Regions from separate parts of the Homo sapiens genome. Here regions 2 and 3 are each linked to region 1. Evidence: fine-mapped expression QTL. A gene starts in region 1. Each other region holds a variant in brackets. All regions are shown on one strand. Distances are from middle to middle.

Region 1 (8,168 bases):
TATCCAAACAGGTGAACTGCATAGAGAAAGAATAATCCACACAGAGCTGGCTGTGCGGGAGACCAGAGTTTTATTATTACTCAAATCAATTTCCCCAAGAATTCGGAGTTCAGAGTTTTTGCTGTTGTTTTTGAGATGGAGTCTTGCTCTGTTGCCCAGGCTGGAGTGCAGTGGTGCGATTTCAGCACACTGCAACCTCCGCCTTCAGGGTTCAAGCAATTCTCCTGCCTCAGGCTCCCAAGTAGTTGGCATTACAGGCGTGCACCACCACGCCTGGCTAATTTTTGTATTTTTAGTAGAGACGGGGTTTTGCCATGTTGGCCAGGCTGGTCTTGAACTTCTGACCTCAAGTGATCCGCCTGCCTCGGCCTCCCAGAGTCCTGGGATTACAGGTGTGAGCCACCGTGCCCAGCCCTGGAGTTCAGAGTTTTTAAGGATAATTTGGTAGGTAGGGGGCCAGTAAGCTGGGAGCACTGAGGGGTCAGATCAGAGATGAAATCGTATGGATCAAAGCTGTCCTCTTGGCCTGAGCCGGTTGCTGAGTGCGGGCCACAAGATCAGATGAGCCAGTTTATCCATCTGGATGGTCCCAGCTAATTCAGCAAGTGCAAGGTCTGCAAAATATCTCAAGCACTGTTGTTAGGTTTTTCAATAGTGATGTTATCCCCAGGAGCAATTTAGGGAGGGTCAGAATCTTGTAATCTCCAGCTGCATGAATTCTAAACCATAATTTCTAATCTTGTGGCTAATTTGTTAGTCCTACAAAGGCAGTCTAGTCTCCAGACAAGAAAAGGATTTGTTTCGGGAAACCATAAACTAAGTTTCTTCCAAAGTTAGTTTGGCCTACACCCAGGAATGAACAAGGACAGTTTGGAGGTTAAAAGTAGGATGGAGTTGGTTAGGTCAGATCTCTCACTGTCTCAGTTATAATTTTGCAATGGTGGTTTCACTGGTTTTAAGATGGAGTTTATTTTATTTTATTTTTATTTTTTTGAGACAGAGTTTCATTCTTGTTGCCCAGGCTAGAGTGCCATGGCGTGATCTCAGCTCACTGCAACCTCTGCCTCCTGGGTTCAAGCAATTCTGCTTCAGCCTCCTGAGTAGCTGAGATTACAGGTGCCCACCACCACACCCGGCTAATTTTTTTCTCCCAAACTGCTGGGATTACAGGCTTGAGCCACCGCGCCCGCCAAGATGGGTTGTTGATTTTAAAACGATGTCACCCTGGCTCTCCTAGGTTCCTGTTCCCCTAACATCATGAAGGCTGCTGGCAGTTCTCTGGCCTCCAGGGAGGCCTCCACACACATTTACCCATGTTCTTAGACAATCCTAGGGACTCAAGGCTTCAACAAACCTAAATGAGCCAGCAGAAAAATAAACTTGAACATGAATGTCAACGTTTTCCCACATGTACTAAAGGGTTATAATAATTTTGAAATGTTTATTTCAAAGAGCGTTGGTAATTTAAACGTCCTATTTAATCCCCAAAACAGTCCTGAGGGGGAGATAAGGCAGTTATCTTCATAGTACAGGAAAGGAAAAAAGCGAGGGTCCAAGGCCGACTATACCCTCAGCTCCATTAGCCCCCGAGGCCTCCCTGACAGGCGGGGCGGACAATCCCAGTGCAGATGCTCTGTATCGATCGCATGCTATCGGTTCTTTCAAGGAACGTGTATTGATCATCAATTAAGTGGTGAGTACTCCTCTAGATGTCGATTCTAAAGAGGGAACAAAACACATTAGACAGAAGAAACATAAGTAACTCGAATAACAACCTTAGAGAGAAGAAACATAAGTAACTCGAATAACAACCTTAGCAAACTGCGGAAACTCCTACAGACAAAAACTCAGGTGTGGGCGCAGAAGGGCCGGGGATGCGCTCGGTCAAGACTTGAAGGTCCGGGGCTTGGGCCCTGTGTCCTCACCGAGCCCCGGGGAGGCTCCGGCTCCGTCCACACCCGGAGCGCGACTCAGCCGCGGCCGGGGCTCTTCTGGAGAACGGCGCGGTCAGGCTCTGCCGCAGCTTTCAGGTCCCCTCGGCCCCGTCCGGGTGCAGCGCAACCAGGCTGCCCGCGGAGCCCCACCGCCCCCATGCCGCCGCCCGCCATGGTTCAGCCCGGCCCCGCCCCTCCCGCCGGCCGTGGTTCAGCGCGTCCACCCCGCCGCCCCACAGCGCCCGCCGCGCCGCGCCCCGCCCCCCGCCGCGCCCCGCCCCCCGCCGCGCCCCGCCCCCCGCCGCGCCCCGCCCCCCGCCGCGCCCCGCCCCCCGCCGCGCCCCGCCCCCCGCCGCGCCCCGCCCCCCGCCGCGCCCCGCCCCCCGCCGCGCCCCGCCCCCCGCCGCGCCCCGCCCCCCGCCGCGCCCCGCCCCCCGCCGCGCCCCGCCCCCCGCCGCGCCCCGCCCCCCGCGCCGCGCCCCGCCCCCCGCCGCGCCCCTCCCGCGCCCGCCGCCCCGCCCCTCCCGCGCCCGCCGCCGTCGTAGCGCCTAGGCGGGGCCTCTCGTAGCGACGCCCCCAGGGGGGCAGAACGCGTGCGCACGCGCGTGCGAACGCGCGTGCGCGGGCGGTGTTTGAGGCCGGCCAGTCGTGACTGGGCGGCAATGAGGTCAGTGACTGCCGGGAGTCCTGCAGGGGCGGGGCGGCGCCAAGCGCAGGGAGCCCGGCTGAGTGGCAGCCCAGGTGAGCGCTCAGGGAGCCCGGGTGAGGGCCGGGAACCCAGGTGAGGGGCAGCCCAGGTGAGCGCGCGGGGTGCCCGGGTTAGGGGCCGGGAACCCAGGTGAGGGGCAGCCCAGGTGAGCGCGCGTGGAGCCCAGGCGAGGGGGCTGGGAAGCCCGGGTGAGGGGACCGGGGATCCCAGGTGAGGGGCCGGGAACTCAGCTGAGGGGGAACCCAGATGGGCGCGCGGGAGCCCACGTGAGGGGGAGCCCGGGTGAGGGGCCGGGGTGGCTCCTGGCGTCCGCGGTCCCAGCCCTGCCTTCCGGTGGGCGTGCGGCACCCCGGGCCGTGCGGTTCCCGGACAGCAGCTTGTGGGGGACTTTCGAGCCCCGCAGCCCGGGGTCCTGCCTGCGCGGGTTGGGCGTGGGGGGCTCCTCACCGCGACGCTGACTTTGGAGTCCTTGAGCGGCGCGGATGCCGGACGGAGGGAGGGGACAGGCGGAGGCGGAGGCGGCGCCGTCGCCCCTGACCTCGCTTCCCTCAGACCGGCTGGGCAAGTACGGTCAGCTCACCTGTGTGCCCACGAGGCGGGGAGGCGGCTCCTGCAGAGCCACAGAGGTGCCGTCGGAGCTGCTGTCAAGGACAGCAGGTGTCACGTGGGTGTGGCCTCCACTGGTCACCGAGTTAGCTGGGGCGGAAGGGGACAAGGTGCAGCTCAACATGGTGTGGGAGGCGGAGGGACGCTGGGTCAGTCAGAACCTGTAGGAGCGGGGAGGGACGCTGGGTAAGGTCACCAAAGTGTGCGGGGGAGAGAGCGGGCGCTGGGTCAGGTCAGCAGGAGGTGGGACCCGCCTGGGCTCTGGGCCCTATAGCCAGCTGCTCTAGGTTGGGGTTGGGTGTGGACAGTAGGGAGGGGAGCCAGGGGCTCCCCAGCCTGTGTAGATTCTGCTGTAAGTGACTCTTCTCTGAAAGACTGGCGCGAGGCGGCTGCTTCTGACTCCTGTTTCAGTTTACCCTCTGTGTGAAATCTGTAACTATCCAGCTTCTGCTTACCTCACTCCCGTATTTTGATTTTTATTTACATACAACTTTTCAGGAAGGTTGTGAGAGGAAAGAGCAATGGTGCAGGAAGTGTGAGTGATTGAGGGAATATGAGATGGCCACAGCTCCCCACTGAGCTTGAACACTTCTGTGCCTCACTTTCAGATTGGCCGTCATGGAGGCTGTGGTTGTTAAGGAAGTTCTTCCTGAGCATCCAGTTTCCATACAAAGAGCACAGGTTCTCTAGGTGGCCTCAGAGATGTTCAATACACAATGTCTTCTGATAACGAGGAACTGGGCAAAAGCCTGGTAGGACACCGGGTAGGTAAATGGTGGAGTCCCTGCAACCGTGTTGCAGAGGAGGATTAGCTGTTGCTGAGAGAAGAGAAGCAGGCCGGGGAGCAGCTTGTATACTGTTATCCCCTTTTATGTAAAAAGAAGAGTTTATATCTAGAAAAACAATTGACCCAGCAGGCACCAAAAAATAGTGATGGTGCTTGGAGCTGTGTAAGAGGATTGTAAATTTTTATTTTTGTATTTTTATGCTTGTTTATATTTTCTGAATTTTGTGTATTAAACATGTATTTCTGTTGATTTTGGAAAACATTTTTACAACCCATCAATGTATAATTTTCAAAATGTTAGAAGTATAATTCTCATGTAAATAGCTCTTGTCAGGTTATATTTCAGTCATTAATGCAGTATACAGCAGGATAGGAATGTCAGTTCAAAAGAGAATACACAAAACTAGGATTTTCTTAGTGAGTGGGTAACAGGAATGCTGAGAGAAGATTGCCAGATTAGATAATAAGATTGGTGAATATCCTGTGTGCATTGAAACCACAGCCTTTGGGATTGTCTTTTCTTCTTGATGGAAAGGAGAATTAGCTTTGCAGATTGTAAAATGCGTGACCCACAATCAGTGGTAAATAGTTTAGTTATTTCTCCTAGAAAGTCAAGTGATTGTTGGGGTTGTAAAACACTGAACTTGCGTTAGCAGGGAAAAAAGCATGCAACCTTTTTTTTCCCTTTTGACGTCACTTCCAAGTTTGGATAAATTATCTCAATGAAAAACAAAAATGCTGGTATCCATAGCAGTTTAGCCCCCATAAACCGGAGGAGCGCATAGATGCATGACAGAGTCGAAGGGTTCCAGTGGCCACTGAGCCTGGTTCCTGGTCACACTGCAGCAACAGAGCTAACACTCTTACTGATGTGTTTGCATTCAGATTTTTAAAAAACTTCATGGCCCAGTGCAATAGAAGAGCTGAAACCACAGAATCTTATAAGACAAGCTTTTTGTATACATTTTCTCCAAAGAAAATGAAGATCTGCAGCGTCAAGAGATGGTGGCCTTCCAGGAGTTGTTTATTCTCCGGCTCCACTTCCTCTACTGCAGAGAGGAAAGGGGCTGGTGTGGAAGGGCTTGGAAGCCTTCCAGAATGAAAGAACCAGATGAGTCCATTAGGTTCGGCCTCCAGTTTTTTGTTTTTTTTTTTTTTTTTGAGACGGAGCCTCACTCTGTCACCCAGGCTGGAGTGCAGTGGCGCTATCTCAGCTCACTGCACGTTCCGCCTTCCAGGTTCCCGCCATTCTCCTGCCTCAGCCTCCCGAGTAGCTGGGACTACAGGCGCTCGCCATCACGCCTGGCTATTTTTTTTTTGTATTTTAGTAGAGACAAGGTTTCACCATGTTAGCCAGGATGGTCTCGATCTCCTGACCTCGTGATCCTCCCACCTTGGGCTCCCAAAGTGCTGGGATTACAGGTGTGAGCCACCCTGCCCGGCCGATTCGGCCTCCAGTTTTACCCATGGAAGGAACAGTGACTTCCAGCTGTGCATTACACTTAAGGACTCCTTCATGTGGCCTGAGCCTTATGGTGCACAGCAAGGGAACAGTGGGAACCCCTGTGTCCCATTTTGCGTATCAAGAGTGAGAGGGTGTGGTTGGGTCAAGGAGCAGAAATAGAAGCAAAAGGAGAAGCTGAGCTCTTCCCATACCCCTTCTGTGCTGCCTGACAGAACAAGGCCTAGCCACACTTCTGTGGGTGCCCACCTTGTGACTTGGGGTGAACCACAGCTGTTCTCAGTACAACGCTGATGCCACGAAAGGACAGCAGAGCTCTGCAGGACTCCAGGAAGACTGGGCGCTTGGGCTGGATCCTGCCTCTGGGACTGGCCTTCTACCCTCATGGCTGAGAGAGCTGAGGAGTTCACCTCCTTTGTGAACTCCTGGCTGGAGGATGCTGGTTGGCATTAACTAAACTCAGAGACCCACAGTAACGAGTTAGACTAGAACAGCACCAGCTTACCCAGAAAGTCAGGAGGTTTGAGCAAAGAATCAGAATGGGGGATTCACTACAGGACTGGAAGGGGAAGTAAGCATTCTGGTCTTTATAATCTGCTGTTTCTGCATCCCTAATTGGCACCTGTTCTCTGACTGCCAGGAGGGTTTGCCCACTCAGCTGTGGCTTACCTGTTTCTGTTTCCATGTCTTTCACCTATCTGCCACTTTTCTGTAGATATGGTAATCTCTCCAAAAAGATATCTAGAAAGCTTGAAGACCTGGTAGCTATTTGCTCTTATGGTGAAGATCACACAAACTAGTTGAACATCTGGCTTGTAGTAGGTGCTTCATTTCCCGCTGCTCTGTATGTTTCTTTCTTTTTTTTTTTTTTTTTTTTTTTTGAGACGGGGTCTCATCTTGTCACCCAGGCTGGAGTGCAGTGGCGCAATCTCAGCTCACTGCCACCTCCACCTCCCGGGTTCAAGCGATTCTCCTGCCTCAGCCTCCCAAGTAGCTGGGATCACAGGCATGTACCACCACGCCCAGCTAATTTTTTGTATCTCTAATAGAGTCGAGGTTTGACCATGTTGGCCAGGCTGGTCTCGAACTTCTGACCTTGTGATGCACCTGCCTTGGCATCCCAAAGTGCTGGGATTACAGGCGTGCGCCACTGCACTCGGCCTGCTCTGTGTATTTCTTTTTCCTGTAGTCAGATTCTGGGGTCCAGGGTGGTTAGGAAAGAAACTTGTTTTCTTTCTTTCTTTTTTTTTTTGAGATGGAGTTTTGCTCTGTTGCCCAGGTTGAAGTGCAGTTGTGTGATCTCGGCTCACTGCAACCTCCACCCTCCTGGGTTCCAGAAATTCTCCTGCCTCAGCCTCCTGAGTAGCTCAAATTACAGGTGCGCACCACCACGCCTGGCTGATTTTTGTATTTTTAGTAGAGGCAGGGTTTTGCCGTGTTGGCCAGGTTGGTCTTGAACTCCTGACCTCAAGTGATTCACCCACCTTGGCTTCCCAAAGTGCTGGGATTACAGGTGTGAGCCACCACACCCAGCCTGAAACTTGGTTTCTTAGCTCCTAAATAGTGAAATCAAGATCAGAGCCCACTAAGCCAGCCGCTCTTCTTGGTTTTTGGTTCTCATGTCCTGGAGTCCCTCTCACCTTGACCAAACCAAAGACCTCCTGAAGCATCACTTGGGCTCACCACTTCCACTGAGGTGGATTTGAGTCATTGATCTGGGCAGAGCCTTCTGGAGTCGGGGTTTCTCTCGTCTCAAGGCAGAGGTCCTACAGAAGTTAGTGGTCTTGGCCAAGCGGACATTGATGCAACTGTGGCAAAATGGGACCTATAAGTCAGAGCTGATGACCTACTCGTGGAAAAGTACAGGGAGAAGTTTTACGAGGGGTCCATATTTTAACCTTTAACAGTGTTGTTCACGTTAACCCTTGTAATGGATGCTATTCCTTGCCTGATACCTGTCCTTTCCACCCAGCCTGCTTTTCTTTAATGCTGGTAAGCGGTCTCCCCTCCAGGCATTAGGCTGCACTTGAAGTTGATCTGCTCCTGTGAAGTGCATAGGGGTTCAACGATGCCTTGCTGCACACTGAATACCAGAGCCGAGTGCTCTTGCCAGCCCCTTAATACCATGTTCAACCTGATTTGTCAACAGGTTAACAGAAATGTGTTTGGAGATGTGTAAGTACACTGGAGTCTTGATATATAGCATGACCAGAAGTGTGGGTCACGAGGGCACACATGGGCATGGCAGCCCCTCAGTTGTCATCCATAGCATCTATCAGAGAGCACGCCTGTGTGCCCTGAACTCACGCACCAGGGGCAGCATGACACGGGAGCCGTTTCTCTAGGGAGAAACATGAGTACCAGTGCTGTCTTTCCCCACATCAGATTTGTGTTCAAACAGAGCTAGTCTGTGTTAAAGCTGGAGTGTTAATGGAGAAACAGACAAACTCTTGTACTATTTTGCCTTTGATTATAGACCATTATCAAAGCAAGAGGTTAGGAGTGATCAGTGCTCCCTTGTCATTTGCATCAGGTCCCAGGACTCACATTCTTTGCATGCTTGTGTGAGCTAGTGTTTTCCATGTCCTTGGGGTGTGGTCACAGCGACCTTTTTGCCTGAATAATGATTGGCAAGTTTTTGCTGAATGGCCACAGTGAATGGCTCCTCCT
Region 2 (8,185 bases), 35 kb after region 1:
CCACTCACAAGATTGCTGCTTTTTCCATAGACCGGTAGGAACTCCAGGCCTTTTCTCCAGCTGTCCCTGAATTCTCCTTGTTTCCTTCCTTCCTAACTTCCTCCATCCAAGGCTGGAGGCCCCAGTTTGGAAATCAGGACCCACGTCCCCCTCCACACCTTCCTATTTGTGTAGTTCTGTTTCGAGTCTGGACTCAGTAAATCTCTCTGTCCTCCTGGACCAGGTGTTGGCGCACTGGGGCTGCCGTGGAAACTGCCCTGGATGTTTCCCAGTCATTACAGATCCCAAGACACTCCTAGGTCCCAGATCCCCAGATCTGGAGGAAAGGGGCCCCTTCTGCCAGGCTTCCTCCCTGGGTCACAAACTCACATCTGCCTGGACTCCCACTGCTGTCTCTCTCTTTCTCTCTCTCTCCCCTCTTTTTAACTGTCCACTAGGTTTTATGGATAACTCCTGAGAGAATGTCCCAGTCTGCTTACCATCACATTGATCCCGCCCACCAGCATTGAGGCTCTGCACTGTCTCCCCTCCCTTGCCTGTCCAAAGCCCCTTCCACCCGGGACCGTCGCCCCTTTACACTCAGGGGTACTGGTCCATCTATGCCATGCTGAGAGCTGCTGCCATGAAAAGACCCCTGGATCTCACCCCCTCCAGCAGCTACCTCTTCTCTTTCTAGAGAAACCACCTAGAAGGACTTCCTACACACACCAGCCCCACCTCCTCTTTCCTGTTGTCTCTTAGGCCCAAGGCCCACCACAGTGCCCTTTGCCCCCCACAGTCACCCCTGCCAGGGCACCGGCGGCCAGCACTTGCTCCACCAACCCTTCCTCCAGAAGAGCTTTTTTGGGAGGGATCCTGGAGCCCGATCCTGGTCCCCCTCCCATCATCCTAACCTCCTCCTGTCTTTCTTCTCCATCTGTAGGATCTTCCCAGGCAAAGTCACCTGTAAATCACATCCATACCCAAGAAGCTCCCAAAATCTCACTTCCAGCCCAGACCTGAATACTGGGTCAGCTGACACCTTATCTGGAGCATCACACACTTTCTACAGCCTCAGGCCACCCACACCAGGGCTTTGCTTTCCCCCACAAGGTGCTCTTCTTCCTGTTACCTCCATCTCGGTACAGGGGGCTGCTCTCCTTCCAGGTGTTGCAGTCAAAACTTTTGGGATTTTTCTTGATTCCTCTTTCTCTTCAAACCCACTTCCCATCCCGAGGCCCGTCCTGTTGACCTAGCCTGTTCATAATAAAGCCCTGCGCCCTTTCCTCCTCCTCTAGTGGTTGGATGAGTGTTCGTGTACCAGTCACTAATTTGATCCCAGAGTCTCCACTAGAGACAGGAGATGCCTCTGCACACACTGACACACACCGAGTGTCACAGCAATTCCACTGGTGGGAGACAGACACCCCGGAGCATTTCAACAATCGCTTTTCTCTGTTGAAGTTTTCTTCTGCCCCATTCACTGTCTCCTCTGACCACACAATTTGGTTTTGCCTCTTTCTCCATGTCGAAGGCTTCCTTGTGTCTGGTGGTCTTCGACTATTTATTTCTCAGCATGAGGCACTGAGAAAGGATGTGGAACCCCGGGTGTGCGTGTGTGTGTGTGTGTGTGTGTCTGTGGCATAAGGAGGTTTGCCTGTGGGACCGGGGATAACCAGGGAGGCGCGTGGGTCTCATACTGAGGAACTCTTGAATCACGCAGATTTTTCTCATGGGTGTGTTTCCCTGAAAGGAATTCTGGGGTCCCTGGGGTGCGGGGCGGAAGGATCTGTCATGCTGTCCCCTGGGGTGCGGAGCGGAAGGATCTGTGATGCTGTCCCCTGGGGTGTGCGGCGAGAGGATCTGTCATGCTGTCCCCTGGGGTGTGCGGCGAGAGGATCTGTCATGCTGTCCCCTGGGGTGTGCGGCGAGAGGATCTGTCATGCTGTCCCCTGGGGTGCGGGGCGGAAGGATCTGTCATGCTGTCCCCTGGGGTGCGGGGCGAGAGGATCTGTCATGCTGTCCCCTGGGGTGTGCGGCGAGAGGATCTGTCATGCTGTCCCCTGGGGTGCGGGGCGGAAGGATCTGTCATGCTGTCCCCTGGGGTGCGGGGCGGAAGGATCTGTCATGCTGTCCCCTGGGGTGCGGGGCGAGAGGATCTGTCATGCTGTCCCCTGGGGTGTGCGGCGAGAGGATCTGTCATGCTGTCCCCTGGGGTGTGCGGCGAGAGGATCTGTCATGCTGTCCCCTGGGGTGTGCGGCGAGAGGATCTGTCATGCTGTCCCCTGGGGTGTGAGGCGGAAGGATCTGTCATTCTGTCCCCTGGGGTGCGGAGCGGAAGGATCTGTCATGCTGTCCCCTGGGGTGCGGAGCGGAAGGATCTGTCATTCGACTGCCACAACTCTTGGATCCAAGTAGGCAAAGGCCACTGTTCTTTCACTCCTCCTGCTTCCCATTGCTGCCTCAGGATCTCCATGACAGTGTCTTCTGGCCGATTCCTCCTGGGCCCTCCGAGCTGGGCTGGGGCTGCCACCTGCCCTCCTGGGTGTGGAGCAGGACCTGGTGATCCTGTGCCTCCTGCTTTCAGCCTCGCCTGATGTCCCCTTTCAGAGATGCCTGAAAGGCTCTCCCTGTAGCTCCGGTAGCCTCCTCTGGTTGGCCTCACCGGTGCCCATTCGTCCATCATCTGTCCATCTGCCTCCAGCCCTCAGACTTTGCCATGGCCCTCTGCCTTTCACTGTCTTGGCACTGGACCATTGTATTCCTCCTCCTGCTCCTCCTTCTTCTTCTCCTCCTCCTCCTCCTTCTTCTTCTCCTCCTCCTCCTTCTTCTCCTCCTCCTCCCCCTCCCCCCTCCCCCTCCCCCTCCCCGTCCCCCTCCTCCTCCTCCCCCTCCTTCTCCTCCCCCTCCTCCTCCTCCTCCTCCAATTCTTGTTCTTCTTCTTCTTCTTCTTCCTCTTCCTCTTCCTCTTCCTCTTCCTCTTCTTCTTCTTCTTCTTCTTCTTCTTCTTTTTCTTCTAAATGGAGACAGGGTCTCACCATGTTGCCCAGGCTGGCCTTGAATTCCTGGCCTTGAACAATCCTTTTGTCTCGGCCTCCCAAAGAGCTGGGATTACAGGTGTGAGCCACTACACCCGGCCATGCCTTCTATCTTCTTTCTCTACTTTCAACACTTAAATATTTTTAGCCAGGTTTCAGCAGGAAATGGATGGACATGAGGGCTCTGTCTGCCTGTTGGACCAGAAGCCCTTGCATCTGATCTAAACAAACCCCTTCTTGCCTTTGTTAGGGTTTCTGCTTGGTTTTATTCACAAAATTGACGTCTCAACTCTAATATTTATGTTCTTGTCACAGACAACTGTGATAGACTAATCAGTTACCTAATTGTCCTAAACCCAATCTTTTAATAAAATCTGGTTTCTTAGGACCTGGAGCGACAGGTTTGCGAGAAAGCTCCTCCCTGGATGAGGCCAAGAGCGTGGGAGTGAGTTCCAGGCTCCCAGAAGTGGGAAGTATTTTGGAAGTATTTTGGATTTAGGCGGTAAAGAATTCCCTATAAAAATAGCTGAACAGATTGGCCTCATATCACTGTGGGACTTTCTTGGAACATGAGGTGAGGTTATGGGTTGGCTTGCAAATAAAACCAAACACATTTCCCAATGAGGGAATGGGGCTGTGGTTAGGATGGGATCCGTGGGGGTTCTGGGGTGCTGGCAGGGCTCTGCTTGTGATCTGGTTACATAGCTATTTGCTTTATAATCATTTAGTAAATGTGTGATTTGTGAATTCTTCTGCATATGTTTTATTTCACAATAAAATGTCAACTTTTTTTTAACAACTAAGCAAAGTTAAGAACAATGCAGTGTAATTTCCTCGGAAATACGCTTTGACAGTTATTTAATTGGGCAAGTGGAAAATTACTTTTTATGAAGATGGTTTCTGCATATCATGAAAATGCCGTGTGCTGAACCATGCAGTAAGTGAAAGCGTCTAGATAAGGGCAGCCATTTGTTCTTCCCGATAAGGCACTCTCTACTGTTTTCTCTGGAATCAAACTGGCACGCCTGATGACTGGTGTTTTTATAAATCAGTGAGTATTTACATGTCTCAAACAGGCAAGTTTAAAACCACAAAGTCAGGGGCATGTTAAAAATTTGACTTCGGGTCTTAACGATCCACTGATCTTTTCATTTCTTCATTTTGGGTCCGGCTGCTTTGCATGAGGATGTTTTTCTCCCGTCTCTTATTGCCTGGCTTACAGGAGAGTTGGGTGATAGGAACACAAGGAGCAGAGAACGCACTGGCCTCTGACAGCCGCTCTGTGCAGATTCAGTCCTTCAGCCACCCGCAGGAATTGCCGCCAGAGTAGGACATGTCTTCTACCCTCTTGGAAGTGATGAAACCACCTTTCAGAAATTACAGCAGTGAGAAAACTATGACGTTGAAAGATACCTGATCTAACCAACCCCCATCCTGCCTTTGACCTCCAAACTGTCTTTCATCACTCCTAGGCCTGGGCCAAACTAATTTTGGAAGATATTTATAGTTTAAACGATAATAGCCCTTCTCCCGAACTGAACTGCCTGTGTAAAGCTAATGAAAGGCCAGTAGGTTAGGAGGATGAGAGGAGCCTGGATTCTGCTAAAATATAGATGTAAACGACGACCAGCCATTACTCTGGAGGTCACAAGATTTGCAGCTTCTGCAGATAAACATCACTATTGTAGAACCTAAGATTGGCCGTTTGAGATGTCCTTTCAAGTTTTTGCATTTCTGATGTCCGACTGATCCTGTGGCCCCACTCAGAAGCGGACTCCCTGGCCTGCTAAACTACCCTTGAAATACAGTAGCCTCCAAATTTTCAGGGAAATTGATTTAAGTAATGGTCAGGCCTCTGAGCCCAAGCCAAGCCATCGCATCCCCTGTGACTTGCACGTATATGCCCAGATGGCCTGAAGTAACTGAAGAATCACAAAAGAAGTGAATAT[G/A]CCCTGCCCCACCTTAACTGATGACATTCCACCACAAAAGAAGTGTAAATGGCTGGTCCTTGCCTTAAGTGATGACATTACTTTGTGAAAGTCCTTTTCCTGGCTCATCCTGGCTCAAAAAGCTCCCCCACTGAGCATCTTGCGACCCCCACTCCTGCCCGCCAGAGAACAAACCCCCTTTGTCTGTAATTTTCCTTTACCTACGCAAATCCTATAAAACGGTCCCACCCTTATCTCCCTTCGCTGACTCTCTTTTCGGACTCAGCCCGCCTGCACCCAGGTGAAATAAACAGCCATTTTGCTCACACAAAGCCTGTTTGGTGGTCTCTTCACACGGACGCGCATGAAAGGAATAACTCCATCTCCCACGTGGCGTGGCTGGCCTCGTGTCAGTTAAACTTTCTTTATTGCAACACCATGGTTTCAGTGAATTGGTTTTCTCTGTGCAGTGGGCAGGAGTTTTAATTTCTTAATTTTGTAGCCAGCCTTCAGGCGGTGACAGTGATTGGACAATCACTTTAGTAGCATGAGATACTGAGGCTACTGCACTCGGATGGAATGGGCAGGAAACATGACTTGAATGCACCATGGACTCTACACCAGCATCTGTCCCCTGCAAAAGGGGCTCTGGGAACTAGAACAGTCATTCCCACCTTCTGAGCGCATTAGATCACTGCAGGGAGCATTGGAACGTGCTTTCCTGGGCCGCTCTGGGCCCAGGCTCCCATGTGAGCATCCGTTTTAAACCAAAAATAAAATTCCGAAAACCAAAAGCCCCCCATCCAACTGAATGGACCCCTACTCTTGGCCAAGAGGATTCCAAACAAACCTGAAAAACAAGTCAGGCCGGACGGGAAGGGGAGGGTCTGATACGCCTCATTGTATCCTCTCCCTTTGGGGTCAGGAACAGCCGATGGCATTAACATTAACACAGAGACCTTCGGACTGACCAGACAGGCTCTGGAAGTGATAGGAACAAGGCCTAGGGTGCAGGAGGAGCCTCGAGGGCTCAGCTGGGCTAGCCTGGGTGGAGGGGCCACAAGAAACCCCTGAAATGACAGAGGTCAAGTTTCATGGCCAGAAAGACTGGAGTCAGAGTGAGGAAGGGGGATGCAGTGGCCAGCCTTTGCTGGGAGCTGCCTCTGTGGCCACACCCAAAACTCCTCCCCCTGCATCGGCCACTCCAGTCCTTACGGTGGAACCACAGGCTCTTGTGAAAGGAAGATAAATCTCGAGACCCCAAGTCACTAAGCCAAAGGGAAGAATCAAGCTGGGAACTGCATCAGGGAATCCCGCCTCCCATTTTACTTAAAACTGCAGATGCAGGCTGGGCATAGTTGTTCACACCTGTAAGACCAGCACTTTAGGAAACTGAGGCAGGAGGATTGCTTGAGTCCAGGAGTTTGAGACCATCCTGGGCCATGTAGCCAGGCCCTGTCTCTAAAAAATAAGAAAAAAATGCAGATTCACTAAGCCAGACTAAGGCAAGAGTGACTGTTCCTCTACCCCCCTTTCACATGTAAATTGTGTATTTGGTGAAAGAAGGGCTAATCCCAGACTCAAAAGAATGCAACTGTTTGTCTCTTATCTGCCTGTGACCTGGAAGCCCCCACTTTGAGTTGTCCCATCTTTCCAGACCAAACCAATGTGCATCTTACACCTACTGATTGATGTCTCACGTCTCCCTAAAATGTATAAAACCAAGCTGTGCCCCGACCACCCTGGGCACATGTGGTCAGGACCTCCTGAGGCTGTGTCACGGGCTCATCCTTAACCTTGGCAAGTAATATGGTTAGCCTTGTGTCCCCACCCAAATCTCATCTTGAATTGCAGTCCCCAGGGACACAGCTGGCCGGAGGTGACTGGATCATGGGGGCGGTTCTCCCCATGCTGTTCTCGCGATAGTGAATAACTCTCACGAGATCTGATTTTTTTTTTTTTTTTTTTGCGACAGAGTTTTGTTGCCAAGGCTGGAGTGCAGTGGCGTGATCTTGGCTCACTGCAACCTCCACCTCCCGGGTTCAAGCGATTCTCCTGCCTCAGCCTCCCGAGTAGCTGGGATTACAGGTGCCTGCCACCACACCTGGTTAATTTTTGTATTTTTAGTAGAGATGGGTTTTCACCATGTTGGCCAGGCTGGTCTCGAACACCTGACCTCAGGTGATCCACCCTCCTCGGCCTCCCAAAGTGCAGGGGTTACAGGCGTGAGCCACTTCGCCCAGCGATCTGATGGTTTTATAAAGGGCAGTTGCCCCAGGCTCTCTCACACTCGCTGTCCTGCTGCCTTGTGAAGAAGGTGCCTGCTTCCCTCTTGCCTTCCGCCATGATTTTAAGTTTCCTGAGGCCTCCCCTGCCATATGGAACTGTGAGTCAGTTCAACCATTTTCCTTTGTAAACTACCCAGTCTCGGCTATTTCTTTATAGCAGTGTGAAAGTGAACCCACACGGCAAAATAAACTTTCTAAATGGATGGAGACCTGTCTCAGATACTTTTGAGTTCACACTTTCATCTGTGGGCTGTGGTGTAATAGCATCTTTTCAAGCCTCCCTGTGGAGGTGGGATCTTTTGGAGTGATTATTTATTTTTCTACGATGTGTAGCTTAATTTATGGTCTATGTACATTTTCCCCTTTGCAGCAGCTAACCTTCACTCATTTACTATAGTGATTTTTAGAATTTTTACTGTTTGTCAATAACTTCCTTTGCAAAGTGTTCCTGCTTTCTGGCATGACTTTTTTATTTTATTTATTTATCTTTTTTAGACAGAGTCTCGCTCTGTCACCAGGCTGGAGTGCAGTGGCATGATCTTGGCTCACTGCAACCTCTGCCTCCCGGGTTCAAGTGATTCTCCTGCCTTAGCCTCCCAAGAAGCTGGGACTACAGGCACACGCCACCAGGCCCAGCTAATTTTTGTATTTTTAGTAGAGACGGGGTTTCACCATGTTGGTCAGGCTGGTCTCGATCTCTTGACCTCATGGTCTGCCTGCCTTGGCCTCCCAAAGTGCTGGGATGACAGGTGTGAGCCATGGCGCCTGGTGTGATTTTTCTGTAACTACATCCTACTTATTCTGGACTAATGAGAAAATAGCAAGGGTGTCCATCTTCATCAACACTGCCTTGTTTGGACAGTTTGGTACAGGCTTCAAGGTTTCAGGCCTTAAGCTTTTGCAAATCACTTGCTCAGAAAAACTGGGGACAGCAGGCCCATTTATATTCATT
Region 3 (8,185 bases), 780 kb after region 1:
TGACACAAACATTACTGTCAGGTGGAATACATTTCCTGTTCTTATCTTCCACCCATGAGTTTCACTAAGAACTTATCACTCACTGCGGCCATGACTTTTGCAGTCTGATGTGTGACAGCAAAATCAGCCTGGATTTATTTCCGATTCCTTCACAATTTCATGGATAGAAAATTCACTTACCATAGATTTTAGCAACCTCAGCATATATTTTTTTCTTATTAAATCAAGAAATTTCACTTTTTCATTTAAAAGAAGCACTTATGGCTTCTATTTGGCATATCTGAATTGCCAGCATCATTACTCTAGTGCTATGGGGCCATTATCAAGTAAAATAAGGGTGACTTGAACAGGAATACTGCAGTGCCAGGACAGGAGGTGTGATTGTCGAGACAGACATTCGGTGACTCACAGGCGTGTGTGGTACGTGGCGTGGATCTGCTGCCGTGTGTGGTACGTGGCGTGGATCTGCTGCCGTGTGTGGTACGTGGTGTGGATCTGCTGGGCATAGGGATGATTTATGTCCTGGGTTGGACAGGATGGGATGGTGTGAGATTTCATCGGGCTGCTCAGAACAGCACACAGTGTAAAGCATGTGAATTGTTTATTTCAGGAATTTTCCATTTAATATTTATAGATATTTGGCAGACCACGCAGAAGGAAACCATGCAAAGCAAAACTCTGGACGGGAAGGACTGCTGTAGCAATAAGGCATGGACATGCCCTGTGCAAAGTTAGTGGCAAGAGCCATTCTTAAACCGGGGAAAGAAGGCGCTATTGTTACATGTAGTTATCACTGGAACCAAAGGTGGATGGGGGACTGTGATAGAAAACGTGGGTCTGGTTTTGGTTCTGCTGATAGATAACTGCGAGATATTTCCTGTATCTTTGAATTTTTATGGCTTTAATTACTTTGTTTTTAAAATGAGGATATCAGAGAAGATGGAGAAAGATTTTCCAAGACTGACTTATTTACACAAAACAGTGATAAAATCTTAAGGAATTATAGGTAGCTACCTAAGGGCATAGGAGAATGATAAAATTATAAACTTCGATGGGGAGTGCACACTTAGAAGAGGAGGGTACCAAGGTCCTCTTTAAGGGCATTTAACCCTGTGCTAAGGGCAGTTGACATGTATGAGTTGGCAAGACAACTAACAGAAAACTTACTGAGGCCTTTCTGCCTAGAAAAACCTGAAAATGGATATTGGGGAATGCATGAGTTCTAGAGAGAGTGGTGAAATCCTGTACATAAAAGATACAGACAGAGTTCCCAAACTCTCCAAAAGTTGTCAGTGACTGATCATGGAAAAATGCATGGGTGAAAAAACTCAAGGCAGTTCAATTAAAGCTGGAATATCTAAATTGAGACTAGAGCCGCCACCTAAGGTTTTTCAGTTCAAGTTCAGTTAAGATTATCATTCATAAAACCAAATAATCAACAGGCATAAGATGAAAAGAACAAAAGTAAATCCTCCCAATTTAACCACCACAATGTCTAAGATACAATCCAAAATTATCTGGCATGTAAAGAACTAACACAATAGAATATATTTTCCGTAGAAAATAAAATGGACCTAAATTCAGATGTTGAAATAAGGCAGACAAGGATTTTAAAGAGGTTATTCTAATTTGTATTTAATGAAGTAAAAGAAACTGTGCTTTCAATGAATGAATAGGAAATCTCAACACAGTAATAGAACTGGAAAAATGCAGAGTCTGACTTAGAAAATAAGAAAATTATTAGATAGATTTAGCAGCCAAAGGGAGGTGATAGAGAAAAAAAAATGTGCGGAATACATAGTACTGTCTCAGCCAAAATAGTGATATGAAATGTTCCAGAAATGTGGTAAATGTGGTTAAAGGTTAGTTTGTGGTGGGACTCAGGCAGAATAATTTTAGGAAAAAATATATATGAAGATTCACGATCTAGAAATCCATTTCCATAATATCACCCATATCACCTCCCTTTGTGAACCTCACGTACATTTTTAAACATAGATTTAGATAGGGGTGGGCGTAGTATGTCCTAGAAGGCAGGTCCCATCTGTAGGCTGTTGCTGTACAGCCCTCAGGCTAAGAATTCTTTTTACATTGTTAAGTCCTATCTATTTATTTAATGTGACAGTTAATACGCAGACAACAAAACCTAAATTATTGACTATGTGGCCCTTTAAAAAATGACTTTGATAATATCCAGCACCTTTTGGTTATAAAACTCTTCGTTTTTGGAGAATAGACAATTCCAAAGGTTATATGTATTCAGAATAGAAATGCTGAAAAATTTTCGTCATATAAGAGAGGACCCGGGGTATAGGGTAAGAGGAAAAGCGAGCTGAGCTGTGGCTCCGAGATGCCTCTGTATTCACGGCGAGATTGTCGTGGGGGTCTGACCAATAATGCCGGGAGGAGATGCTGCAATCAGAGTCTTCCATGTGAGGGAAGAGATCCAAATTCCCCGGGAGGAGGCTTGGGTAATGCTGGCAATGAGGTGACTCAGTGCACTGCATGGCCTTTTTGGTAGGAAGATCAATGCAGGTTCATATTTTCAGTGATAATTCGAATGCACACAAATAACAAACTACTTAAGAAGCTTTTTGGTTTACTTATCATTTGTATGGCTAGATCATTCCCTGGCTCTTATTAGCACAGAATAAAATGGTTTTCAAAAAAATAAATAAATGGTCAGAAGTCAATCAACTGGCATCAAAGTATTAATATTCAATAACAGATAGTTATCTTTCATAATCCTATTTTATTTATTATTATTATTTTGAAACAGAGTTTTGCTCTTATTACATAGGCTGGGGTGCAATGGAGAGATCTGGGCTCACTACAACCTCCCCCCTCTCCGGGTTCAAGCGATTCTCCTGCCTCAGCCTCTTGAGTAGCTGGGATTACAGTCACCCGCCACCACACCTGGCTAATTTTTGGTATTTTTAGTAGAGATGGGGTTTCACCATGTTAGCCAGGCTGGTCTGGAACACCTGACATCAGGTAATCCACCTGCCTCAGTCTCCCAAAAGGCTGGGATTACAGGGGTGAGCCACTGTGCCCAGCCACAATCCTATTTTATATGTAGCAAAATTTAAAGGGATATTTACAATGTCTAATAGTTCTTAGTTCTCATAAACCAAGTGTGTTACAGTCTACCTTTATTACATTTTCCATTTGCTTTTGATATGCAGGGACTACAGATTGTGAATGGAAAAATATCTTTTTGTCATCTTTATCGAATCACGGTTTGCAACTATTTTGTATGCCCCTGTAGATTTGATGACCCCCTTATTTGGAAGAATGCTTTTGGCGAATTGATTGGTTTGATGTGATAGTCTCTGTGATTTTAATAGAGTTATTTAGGAACCTGTTTTGTTTAATTTCATCTACTGAATATTGCCTAACACCAAGTATAGGGGCACACATATGTAATTTAACCAAAGATAAATGTTTGACGACCTAAAATATTGCAACAAAAAATTGTAATTAATTGCTTAATATAAATTACAATTAATTTGACATTGAAAATATTTTAAGTTATTTTTGCAATTGGTAGAGGACACTGATGACTTTTACTTTCTCTTCATTGACAATGAGGTCCAATGTGGCTAAGACTGTGACTTCGTTTTGCTGATATACTTTGCACAAATATTCCATTCAGAAACACTTGCTAACATACTTGAAAATATTCTTTTCAAAGATATTTTAAGCTAGGACTGGTGTGGTGGCTCATGCCTGTAATTCCAGCACTTTGGGAGGCTGAGGCAGGCGTATCACTTGAGTTCAGGATTTCAAGACCAGCCCGGGCAACATGGCGAAACCCCCTCTCTATAAACAAAAAGAAAAAAAATAAGATATGTTAAACTTGACCTTCATGGAAGACAGTGAATAATTATGACATTTTAATTCTCTAGACTGCATTATAGTATATTTTAATTGCATTCTTTGAGTTCATTTAGAACTCAAAATTGAATGTCTAGAAACTGGTCAAGGGATAGAGGAAATACCTTTTTTTATTTATTTATTTATTTTTATTTTTTTGGAGGCAAAGTCTCCCTCTATCGCCCAGGCTGGAGTGCAGTGGTGCGATCTCGGCTCACTGCAACCTTCTCCTAGCTGGTTCAAGCAATTCTCCTGCCTCAGCCTCCTGAGTAGCTGGGACTACAGGCGCCCGCCATCATGTCCGGCCAATTTTTTTGTATTTTTTAGTAGAGACTGGGTTTCACCATGTAGCCGAGGCTGGTTTTGAACTCCTGAGCTCAGGCAATCCACCCGCCTCGGCCTCCCAAAGTGCTAGCATTACAGGCATGAGCCACCGTGCCTGACCTCCATTCCTACTTCTTTATATTGTAATGTGAGAATTTGAGATTCATTATTAACCAAAGAATTCAGTAAAATGCTTTCCTTGGGCACGTTAGCAGCATCCATGGTAGCAACCACACCAACAATGTCATACACCAGACTGCAGCTCAAGGGAAGCCATGTCCTTGCACTTGATCACAAGTCCCAGCAGCTTTCTTAACTTCCAAAGACTGAACTTGGGACATCTGGAGCTCAAGCAGCAATTTTCATTAAAAAATTTAACAGAGAGCTCTTCCGTAGATATGCCAGTTCTTGGTCTTGCACGCATTCATTTGTTGTAGATTAGGAATGTGTATATTATATGCACTTAAGAAAAAAATCTAAAGAAAAATACATTCTCAAGCGGAATCAGAGAGGGTTTCCTGAGTAGATTCTCGTTATTAAAATTGCCACATGCAGATTATATAATTTATATGCAT[G/A]TATCAAAAGTATAATTTACTATCACGGTGGAATGCCTCAAAACTTTAAAAAGTATGACTTTGAAGAGAATGAAAGGAGTTTTGACTCTGCAGAAAATAACATGAATAATTCGACAGAAGCTGTAAATTACTCCCATTTTTCACTGAGCTTTTGCATTAAAATAGGCAAATTAGATTCTACACTTTTTCCCCTACACAGATGGAAAATATGACCACTAAATTCATATCGTTTTAACTAGTGTCATCCCCCAGTGATTAAGATGTGCCTTCTTCAAGCATCAAAACACAGGCTGAAACGTGGAGTTTCCAGAGAGAAGATTTTTCCTGGTCTCATAAACAAAAATGACTGTAACTTCTGTAATAAGAACACATCATGACAAATATGTCTTTTCAAAGGTAATGGCAGACCCAGGGAAGCATTGCAAGAAAGGAACATCAAAATGTGTGAAAATCATGCTGCATCTTTTTTATTTCTGGGAAATAATAATCTGCAAAAAATAATAACAACTTTAAGCTTAACTATTGGTATCATTTTAAAACAAATTCAAAAAATAACACCGCTAGTCCAAGTGGTTCCTGTGCTATTTGAAAATAGACATCGCAGGCAGAGCAGGTGCTGGTGCAGGCTGGGTTGCCAGCCCGGCCCACGTGGGTGCGAGGGCATCCTGTCTCCATGGCTCAACGGAGGCGCCTCCAGCTAAAAGGACAGCCAGGGAATGCACCATGGACAGGTCAGTGAGTCCCAAGGCAGAGTGCAAGGGAAGCTTCAAAAAGTATACCACTGAACTACTTTCTGCCTTGCAATCAGAAAGACAGACATCTCAGACCTCATCCTGTGTTTCAAGGTGGCGGTTTGGGAAGGGACTGGTTCATTCGAAGCTGTCTGCCACGGGGGCTTCTGGGGGACAGACACTGAGAGGTTCACTTCACATGGAGAATCTGGGCCTTTGTGCAGCCACTCACCAGCTGCGGACTCTTCGCCAAGCTGCTCAGCCTGGTCGTGCCTCAGTTGCTTCCTCTGTAAAACAGGAGCAATGATGGTGCTTGCCTCTTAGGTTTGTCTTGAGAAGCACATTAAGCTGATTTTTGCCGCTCCACAGTTAACAGCAGAGCCTGACAGATGGAAGGATGAGGTGGGCTATTTAGGCTACATGTGTTTGCTAAAGAAACTAAACAGACTCCACAGAAGAGCCATTTGCACCCCTCTGTCTTAAACACCCTTATGGGACGTATATCCTACCCTCTGTCAGAAACCAGTATCAAGATTTCTCAATATGAAACACAGTGCCAGGGCCAGAAGTCAGAAATAAGGCTGAAATTGGGCGGGCACGGTGGCTCATGCCTGTGATCCCAGCATTTTGGGAGGCTGAGGTGGGTGGATCACGAGGTCTAGAGTTCAAGACAAGCCTGGAAAATATGGTGAAACCCCGTCTCTACTGAAAATACAAAAATTAGCTGGGCATGGTGGTGGGCGCCTGTAATCCCAACTACTTGGGAGGCTGAGGCAGGGAACCGCTTGAACCCAGGAGGTAGAACTTGCAGTGAGCCAAGATCATGCGCCACTGCACTCCAGCATGGGAGAAAGAGCAAGACACTGTTTCAAAGAAAAAAATAATAAAGAAAGAAATAAAAAATAATAAAATAATAAATAAATAAAAACACCAAGACTGAGATTTCTTAACTATTTTAGGGCCATTCATTTTAACACTGTCTCTCCAAACTTTTCAAGGAGCACAGTAAGTTTCGGGCACAACCCCTTTGTGCCCCATTATAATCTATGAGGAATTTAATAAAATTCTATTTATTTGGTTCTACTATAATGAAAATTAACATTTTTTATTTACACGAGGCTTCGTTAAATTTAATCACATCATATAGCTATTTCAAGAAGATTCTCTATAAATACACACATATAAGCCCTCAGTACCATCCAACTAAGAATATCTACTGGATTACTGGATTTCTTTCTTTCTTTTTTTTTTTTCTGGAATTGGGGTCAACATTTCATTCCATAAAATAGGATGTGTGTTCCTGACAACTGAATGGTTTCTGTTTTCCCATTGTTTGTTTGCATTCTTTGTGTTATTTCTTGGCACGTGGAAAACAGAAGAATAAAAGGAAATTTTCAAGGTTTAAAAACAGTTATTGAAAGGAAAATGTAGAGTAGAAAGTGTTTCCACACTTGAGTTGATCAAAGGAAAAGTCAGGATTGGGAGGGAAATGGAAAGGCATGAAGAGGAGAGAGAGCTGTCACGTATTCCATGCGCAAGTCAGCAGCATTCATGGAACAACCACACCACTTGGGGAGGGAGGTGGAGAGAAGAGGAGTGGCTCTGGCTGAATGAGTCTGGGCGTGTGCAGAAACGGACAGGAAGGGGCACCCTGGCAGGCAACACCAGTGCTCGGGAAGGGCATGAAGACTTAATGTGGCTACTGGGGCTGTCGACAGAAGTTTATTCATGAGATTAGTTAGTTAAATCAATGAGAATCAGTGACTTCTTCCAGGGCTAGCAGAGGTAAAGGAGAAGTCAATATATTAAATGAGCCACAACCATATCACCAAATGCAAACAGAGCGGGCATGGCTGTGGTAATGAGACAAACACTAATATGCAGCTGAGATTCCAAAATATTTTCTCTGTGTTGAACAAGCAGTAGTGATGGTGGGTAGGGGGGCCATCCGGAGTGATCTTGAGCCTGGATGGATGCACCCAGGCTCAGCCTTAATGAGTAGGTGGCCTGCAGGATGAGGCACAGGAAGCTTGGAATGATTCTGTAAACAGAAATTCTTCATAGTGAGAGAAATAGCATGAGCCTCATAAGGGCAACTTTCAACCAAAATAGGGTGTCGGCTGTGGTTACCTTGAATGCTTTCAAACGACCATTAAACATTTTACCATATTCAGGAGGGTTTCCATTTTTTGGCATAGTTAAGGAGTTGCATTAAAACAAAGAAAGGAAGAAAAAGGAACTTCCAATTTGTTAATAGGTTTATTTCAGTACCAAAACTTTCTTTAACAGCCATTTGATTAGCTTCATAGAATTATATTTTATAATTAAATGTACCTATACTAAGTGTAGAGTGAGGGGACATTCTAATGAATATTCATATCCATATAACCACATGTCAATCAAGAAATAAAACATTTCCATAATTTCAAAATGTTCTCATGCCCCTTCTCCCAGCTCCTGCGCAAATACTGATCAGCTTTCTGGTACTGTATTTGAGCTTTTTGTCTTTTCTAGGATTTCTATATAGATAGTATCATTGAGCATGTTTTACTTCATGCCTAACTTGTATTATTCAGCATAAGATTTTGGTATGACCTTTGTCATTGTGTATTGGTGGTGTGTTTACTTTATTGTAGAGCAGTAATCCAGTCCCTAGATAATCATTTACATAGTATTCTT

Evidence for each region. PIP is the estimated chance that this variant, and not a neighbour inherited with it, causes the effect.
Region 2: its variant is fine-mapped to the expression of CLN8-AS1 in sigmoid colon (GTEx, PIP above 0.99). The same link has a PIP of 0.9 or more in transverse colon.
Region 3: its variant is fine-mapped to the expression of CLN8-AS1 in aorta (GTEx, PIP 0.97).

What each region holds. Positions count from the first base shown.
Region 1 is chr8:1,761,211-1,769,378 of GRCh38, forward strand. It overlaps CLN8-AS1 (CLN8 antisense RNA 1), which reads right to left and starts at 3,374. Exons shown (of 2, transcript NR_134303.1): 1 at 3,224-3,374; 2 at 753-1,718. It overlaps CLN8 (CLN8 transmembrane ER and ERGIC protein), which reads left to right and starts at 2,579. Exons shown (of 3, transcript NM_018941.4): 1 at 2,579-2,675. RefSeq lists an enhancer at 7,933-8,168.
Region 2 is chr8:1,796,435-1,804,619 of GRCh38, forward strand. It overlaps MIR3674 (microRNA 3674), which reads left to right and starts at 4,691; the gene lies at 4,691-4,758. RefSeq lists enhancers at 3,622-4,821, 4,655-5,316, 5,977-6,637. The variant G/A (reference allele first, on the strand shown) is at 4,967.
Region 3 is chr8:2,544,380-2,552,564 of GRCh38, forward strand. All of the region lies in intron 5 of LINC03021 (long intergenic non-protein coding RNA 3021), which reads right to left. Among named protein-coding and RNA genes, the nearest start is that of LINC03021, 180 kb to the right of the region's middle. The variant G/A (reference allele first, on the strand shown) is at 4,776.